Homo sapiens: one gene and its partner. The protein of the gene in region 1 purifies or fractionates together with the protein of each later gene. This does not show direct contact. Each region holds a gene or a part of one and is shown on either strand. Other genes may lie near its edges.

What was found.
Region 2: the proteins of DENND10 (region 1) and NMT2 purify together in Homo sapiens (affinity purification with mass spectrometry; one large-scale study listed by BioGRID and IntAct). This does not show direct contact.

What each region holds. Positions count from the first base shown.
Region 1 is NC_000010.11:119,117,613-119,121,432, reverse strand, and holds part of DENND10 (DENN domain-containing protein 10), read right to left. Parts: coding exon 3,766-3,820; intron 1,093-3,765; coding exon 981-1,092; intron 1-980. UniProt on the Homo sapiens protein: Guanine nucleotide exchange factor (GEF) regulating homeostasis of late endocytic pathway, including endosomal positioning, maturation and secretion, possibly through activating Rab proteins such as RAB27A and RAB27B.
Region 2 is NC_000010.11:15,109,583-15,113,402, forward strand, and holds part of NMT2 (glycylpeptide N-tetradecanoyltransferase 2), read right to left. Parts: intron 3,382-3,820; coding exon 3,214-3,381; intron 2,205-3,213; exon of another isoform or gene 1,946-2,204; intron 258-1,945; coding exon 120-257; intron 1-119.

The DNA of each region.
Region 1 (3,820 bases):
GGGTGTGGTGGTTCATGTCTGTAATCATCTCAACGGAGGCAGGAGAATCACTTGAGCCTAGGACATCGAGACCAGCCTGGCCAACATAGTGAGACCCCAGAAACCCCATCTCGACAAAAAATATAAAAAAAATAAAAATGAAAAAAATTTAAAAGGACCTAATAACAAGTTAGATTTAGTAAACAAAAAATCTTTAAAAATCTGTATGGCAGGTGGGGGAGCTGTTAGAGGGGACAGGGCCTGGCAGGCACCTCCTGGCCCTGAACTGACCCTCCTGGCAAAAAAATTATTAACAACAACAAAATCTACATTTATTTTGGCCGGGCACAGTGGCTCACACCCGTAATTCCAGCACTTTGGGAGGCCAAGGCATGAGGATCACTGGAGCCTATGAGTTTGAGACCACCCTGGGCAACACAGCAAGACCCCATCTCTACTAAAAATGAAAATAAAATTTAAAAAATCTATATGTACTATCAAAGTAAGAGTCTTTGTCCTGCTCTAAAACTTTTTAATTAAAACAAGAAAAAAAAAAGAGTCTTTGATAAAACTGAACAGAAGGAACAATTTACCTGAAACGGGTCAGCAAACTATGGCCCACAGCCTAGCTGCCTGTCCTTGAAAATAAAATTTCATTGACCACAGCCATGCTGAGTCATTTATGTACGTGTCCTCCATGGTTGCTTTTGTGCTACCTAGGCAGTTGAGTAGTTGGGGCAGTGACCATATGGCTCACAAACCTAAAATATTTACTGTCTGGCAAGGAAAAGTTTGCTAATCCCCTGCTCTAAAATAGTCATAAATAGTCCAAATCAGTAACCTTGAACTACTAGAGCTAAACAGAAACTTCAGACCAAAGGTGGTATTTCACCACATGCTATTTATAGCAAATGTGCAACACAGCAGAGCACACAGTAACATCTAGTGCTGCGAACTGTCTGCCAACAAAGTTAACACTTTTTTATAATTAGAGGTGATACCTGGTGAACTCCTGGACCGCTTCTATCTTGGGGTGATACACCACAATTCTTTTCTTTAGCATCAGTGCTGTGTGTAAGATAACAGTTTCCATTCCAAACTGAGATACAATGTCTTCAAAAAAGAGAAATTGTAATGTTACTGCATTACACATCATGCAAAGAAATAAAGATTTTTTTTTCTTTTTTTCTTTTTTCTTTTTTTTTTGAGACCGAGTCTCACTCTGTCACCCAGGCTGGAATGCAGTGGCAAGATAGTTGCTCACCGCAACCTCTGCCTCCTGGGCTCAAGCGATTCTCCTGCTTCAGCTTCCCGAGTAGCTGGGATTACAGGCACACACCACCACACCTGGCTAATATTTGTATTTTTAGTAGAGACGGGGTTTCACCATGTTGGCCAGGCTAATCTCGAACTCCTGACCTCAAGTGATCCACCCACCTCAGCCTCCCAAAGTGTTGGGATTACAGGTGTGAGTCACAGCACCTGACGTACAAAATTATTTTTAATACAGAGAATTTAGGCAAATGTTGTAAAGCATACAAACACTTTATTTGGTGGAAGAGTAGATCTATCCTATGTCAGCTTCCCAGGACGTGTGCTCTGCCCCGCAAGGGACTCTATGATGGGATGCATAGAGGAAGCTAGACTCACAAAAAACTGAAACAACTGATGTGAAGGGAACCAGCATCTTTCTGTATCATTAAAACTTCCTGATTTAAAAAAAAAAAAAAAAATGTCTGCCAGGTGCAGGGTGACTCATGTCTGTAATACCAACACTTTGGGAGGCCAAGGTGGGAGGATCACTTGAGCCCAGGAGTTTGAGACCAGCCTGGGCAACACAGGGAGACTGTCTCTAAAAAATGTTTAAAAATTAGCTGGGGCTGGGCACAGTGTCTCACACTGTAATCCCAGCGCTTTGGGAGGCCTAAGCAGGCAGGTCATCTGAGGTCAGGAGTTTGACACCAGCCTGGCCACCATGGTGCAACCCCATCTCTACCAAAAATACAAAATTAGGCTGGGCACAGTGGTTCACACCTGTAATTCCAGCACTTTGGGAGGCCGAGGCGGGTGGATAACCTGAGGTCAGGAGTTCGAGACCAGCCTGGCCAAAATGGTGAAACCCCATCTCTACTAAAAATACAAAAATTAGCGGCCGGGCGCGGAAGCTCATGCCTGGAATCCTAGCACTTTGGGAGGCCGAGGCAGACGGATCACCTGAGGTCAGGAGTTCGAGACCAGCCTGACCAACATGGAGAAACCCCATCTGTACTAAAAATACACAATTAGGCAGGCGTGGTGGCACATGCCTGTAATCCCAGCTACTTGGGAGGCTGAGGCACTTGAACCCAGGAGGCGGAGGATGCGGTGAGCCAAGATCGCGCCACCCAGCCTAGGCAACACTTGTTGGAGCAAAACTCCATCTCAAAGAAAAAAAAAAAAAAAATTAGCTGGGTGTGGTGGCAGGTGCCTGTAGTCCCAGCTACTTGGGAGGCTGAGGCACGAGAATCACTTGAACCTGGGAGGCAAAGGTTGCAGTGAGCTGAGATTGTGCCACTGCACTCCAGCCTGGGTGACACAGTGAGACTCTTGACTCAAAAAAAAAAAAAAAAAAAAAAATTAGCTGGGCATGGTGGTGTGCACCTGTAGTCCCAGCTACTCGGGAGGCTGAGGTGGAAGGATTGCTTGAGCCCAGGAAGTTAAGGCTACAGTGAGCCGTAATTGTACCACTGCACTTCAGCCTCAGTAACAAAGCAAGACCCTGTCTCAAAAGGAAAAAAAAAAGTCTATTAACTCCCCCATGTCCCCCAGTATAATTACTTAAGTCCTTAAGTTAGCCTGACAAACACCTACCACCTCAACAGGGATGCTGAGAAAATTCAAAGAACAGCGGGATCAAAAGGAAAGACAGATGGGCACCATGGGAGGACATGACAGAGGGCAGCCTCGCCTTCAGAGTTCCCCTCGCCTCCTGCTCAGGGACCCTGAAGTCTGTGGCTTAGGCCTGAGCTGTCTGCATTTTGGATTTTCCAGCTGGAACTTAAATTAGGAGTTTGTGGTCAAGGCCTTGGGCTCTTCAGATGACAGAGATAACTGCTAAGATCTAAGAAAAGAAATGTAATCCATGAAGACCTCGAGGCACAAAATTCAGCCCACCAGCGAGAAAATATTTCTAAAATAGCCAATAGAATAATATGGAAACAAACACCACAAAAACCTGTTTTCCTCTGAGAGAATTCTAACTCAATAAGGAAATACGGGGGTTAAAGGCACCCTCTTGTGTACAAATGATATGAAAAATATGTAAATGAAAATAACGTATGGAAGGATTAGAATTATCTAATAACTAGATAATTCTAATTAGATAATCTAATTATGTAATTATTCTATTAGGCACAATAGGATCTAATGAGACTGTTTTTGGCTTGGGGATTTTGTTGTTGGAAGGGTTTTGTTTTTACCTTCTTTTTTTTGTTTTTTGTTTTTTTTTTGAGACGGAGTCTCGTCTGTTGCCCAGGCCGGAGTGCAGTGGCACAATCTCGGCTCACTGCAACCTCCGCCTTCCAGGTTCAACTGATTCTCCTGCCTCAGCCTCCCGAGTAGCTGGGATCACAGGCGGGTGCCACCACGCCCGGCTAATTTTTTGTATTTTTAGTGGAGACGAGGTTTCACCATGTTAACCAGGATGGTCTCGATCTCCTGACCTCGTGATCCACCCGCCTTGGCCTCCCAAAGTGTTGGGATTACAGGCGTGAGCCACCGTCCCTGGCCTGTTTTTTCCCTTCTTACCTTTGATGGAGCCAGCCAGGTAGGCCTTTCGGGCATCAAAATCCTTACTAAGGAA
Region 2 (3,820 bases), about 100 Mb from region 1:
AAATAAATAAATAAAATGAACAAAAATAAAATAAAGCTGTCTTAAGTCTAAGTGAAGCAAGTATGAAATTGTCTAGGTACATTTGTTGAGTTTACAAGGGCTATATCCATTTCACTTACCTTTTCAGAATCTGTACCTGGACACCTCCAATTGTACAGGTAATACTGCAAATTGCCATCTCCTATACCAAACTTGAGTTTTTCCAAGAATGTCTTATTTTCCATCAAATCCAGTGCATTGAATACATCAAATCCTTTCTGCCAATTTAAAAAAGATTTAAAATTTAAAACAAAGGACTAGTGTTTTCTGTATTACATATCTCAGTTTAACAATTCTACTAATAGCTCGAATATGCATTTCTAATAGGATTTAACGTCCGTGATATATAGCATAGGTTAAGAATTCAGGGCCGGATGCTGTGGCTCATGCCTATAATCCCAGCACTTTGGTAGGCTGAGGTGGGTGGATCACTTGAGGTCAGGAGTTCGAGACCAGCCTGACCAACATGGCGAAACCCCATCTCTACTAAAAATAACAAAAATAAGCCAGATGTGGTGGCGCACACCTGCAGTCCCAGCTACTCAGGAGGCTGAGGCAGGAGAACTGCTTGAGCCTGGGAGGTAGAGGTGGCAGTGAGCCGAGATTGTGCCACGGCACTCCAGCCTGAGCGACAGAGTGAGACTTTTTTTTTTTCTTTCTTTAAAAAGAGGAAGAATTCAGTTGAAAATTGTCTTATAAAACTAGCAGTGTGGCTGGATGTGGTGGCTCACGCCTGTAATCCCAGCACTTTGGGAGGCCAAGGTGGGAGGCTCACTGGAGCCCAGGAATTTGAAACCAGCCTGGGCATAGGCTGTAGGTATAGGTGTAGGTGTAGGTACAGGACATTGTCTCTACAAAAATAAAAAGATTGACTCGGCATGGTGGTGTGTGCCTGTGGACCCAGCTACACAGGAGGCTGAGGCAGGATTGCATAAGCCGAAGAGGTCGAGGCTGCAGTGAGCTGTGATTGTGCCAGTGCACTTAAACCTGAGCAACAGAGTGAGCGCCTGTCTCAAAAAACAAACAAACTATAGTGAATCCAATGAAGTCAGCATGAAAATTCAGAAACGCTGAATCCCAAAAATGTTAAAAATGTAGTATGATGGCTGTCACTGGCATAAAATTACTTATGAAGATTTCAGAAAATATTTTATTTATGTTTTATTTATTTATTTTTAAATTTTTTTGAGATGGAGTCTCACTCTGTCATCCAGGCTGGAATACAGTGGCATGATGTCGGCTCACTGCAACCTCCACCTCCCAGATTTAAGCAATTCTCCTGCCTCAAACTTCCTAGTAGCTGGCATTACAGGTGTGCACCTCCATGCCCAGCTAATTTCTTTGTATTTTTAGTAGAGACCGGGTTTCACCGTGTTGGCCAGGCTGGTCTTGAACTCCGACCTCAAGTGATCCACCTGCCTTGGCCTTCCAAAGTGCTGGGATTACAGGCATGAGCCACTGCACCCAGCCTCGTTCTTGTTTTAGAAGGGAACAGTTGTCAAGATGGTTTCATCTCCAGGATTATTAATTATTAGCCTTTCTAAGTCCTACCTTGGCTGAAGCTATTGCCCAGGGACCAAAGTTGTAAAGACTTTAAATAGTATGCAGGCCGGGCGTGGTGGCTCACGCCTGTAATCCCCGCACTTTGGGAGGCCGCAGCAGGTGGATCACCTGAGGTCAGGAGTTCGAGACCAGCCGGGTCAATATGATGAAACCCTGTCTCTACTAAAAATACAAAAATTAGCCAGGTGTGGTGGCACACACCTATAGTCCCAGCTACTCTGGAGGCTGAGACAAGAGAATCACTTGAACATGGGAAGCAGAGGTTGCAGTGAGCCGAGACTGTGCCACTGCACTCCAGCCTGGGTAACACAGCAAGACTCATCTCAAAAAAAAAAAAAAAAAAAAAAGTATAAAAAAATAGTATGTTTGCTTTGGGCTGATAATGGGAAATATATTTATGTAAAATTTTAATGGTAAAAAATTAAATTTCTTTAAAATGTCAGACAATAATACTATGCAAAATGTGATATAGAAGAAGCACTTTTTATTTTTATTTCTCAGGGTTTTTACCTTAAATAACTAATTACTGGCCATATTTGGGAAGTGTTGAAAAAAAGCAGACAATCTGAGGATGATGTTGACTTGGGGATCCAAAGGCACAGGTAAGAGATTTTTATTTTATTTTATTTTAATTAATTAATTAATTTGAGACAGGGTCTCACTCTGTGGCCCAGGCTGGAATGCAATGGTGCAATCTCGGCTCACTGCAACCGCCAACTCCCAGGTTCAAGTAATCCTCTTGCCTCAGCCTCCCGAGTAGCTGGGATTACAGGTGTGTGCTATCACACCCTGCTAATTTTTGTATTTTTAGTAGAGACAGGGTTTCACCATGTAGACTGGCTACAATTAAATTTTGAATTTCATTCCTTTAATTTTAAAATTCAGAGACTATTTGGTTGAATAAAAAAATTGCTGCTAGTTATTCACTCAACAAAAATATTCACTCATGTATTAATATTTTCCTTATATTACTTCCTAAGATATGGGCTTTATATATATATATATATATATATATATATATATATATATATATTTTTTTTTTTTTTTTTTTTTTTTTTTTTTTTTTTGAGACAGTTTCTGTCACCCAGGCTGGAGTGCAGTGGTGCAATCTCAGCTCCATTGCAACCTCTGCCTCCCAGGTTCAAGCAATTCTCCTGCCTCAGCCTCCCGAGTAGCTGGGATTACAGGCACACACCACGAAGCCTGGCTAACTTTTGTATTTTTAGTAGAGACGAGGTTTCACCATATTAACCAGGCTGGTCTTAAACTCCTAACCTCAGGTGATCCACCCATCTCGGCCTCCCAAAGTGTTGGGATTACAAGCCTGAGCCACCATGCCCAGCCTTATATATTCTTATATAAGGATTAAACATTTATAATTTGTACATTTTGTCTTTTTTGTTAAACTGCCATAAAATTAATGATGAAAATAGCCTCTAAAGTTTCAAAAGAAACTCTTATCAAAATTCTTCCTTTGACTGATGATCAATAGTTTTTTTAAAGTCTCGCATAAATTCCACCTGTGTGGAAGAAAACACAGTAAGATGTCTTCTATAGTTTGGCACAGACATTTGGAGAACCAAACGGCGTGAACAGGAAGGAGTGGCTTACCGATTTAGCCAGGATGAGCGCGTCGCTCATGAGGTCCAGCAGGGGCGTCTCTGTGTGGATGTTGTAGAATGAGTAGGCGGCTTTGAGGCTCTTGTGAGCAGGGTGGTGCATCACCGTGGAGGGGAGCGTATAGAAGCTCAGGAAATCAGTCAGTTTACCGTTGGGGCTCTAGGAGCAAAAGTGCTGTCAGACAGAGATCTCCTTGAACCAACTGCATACGTGCATTTCCACTAACTCTGTTCTCTCCCTTGCCCCAGAGAACGAAAAGCAGTAAGTCACACTTCTTTCTCGGCAGTCCAATTTGGGGCCCCTTATATTGTGCTGTGTAGAGGCCAAGAAGGGCCTGGAGTTGGGACTTCAGCCTAAGTGCCCATTGGTGATTTGCACAAAGTTCTTAGGAAGCAGAATGTCATGCCTGTAATCCCAGCACTTTGGGAGGATGAGGCGTGTGGATCATGAGGTCAGGAGTTCGAGACCAGCCTGACCAACATGGTGAAACCCCATCTCTACTAAAGATATGAAAACTTAGCCAGGTGTGGTGGCGCACACCTGTAATCCCAGCTACTTGGGAGGCTGAGGCTGGAGAATCGCTTGAACCCCAGAGGCG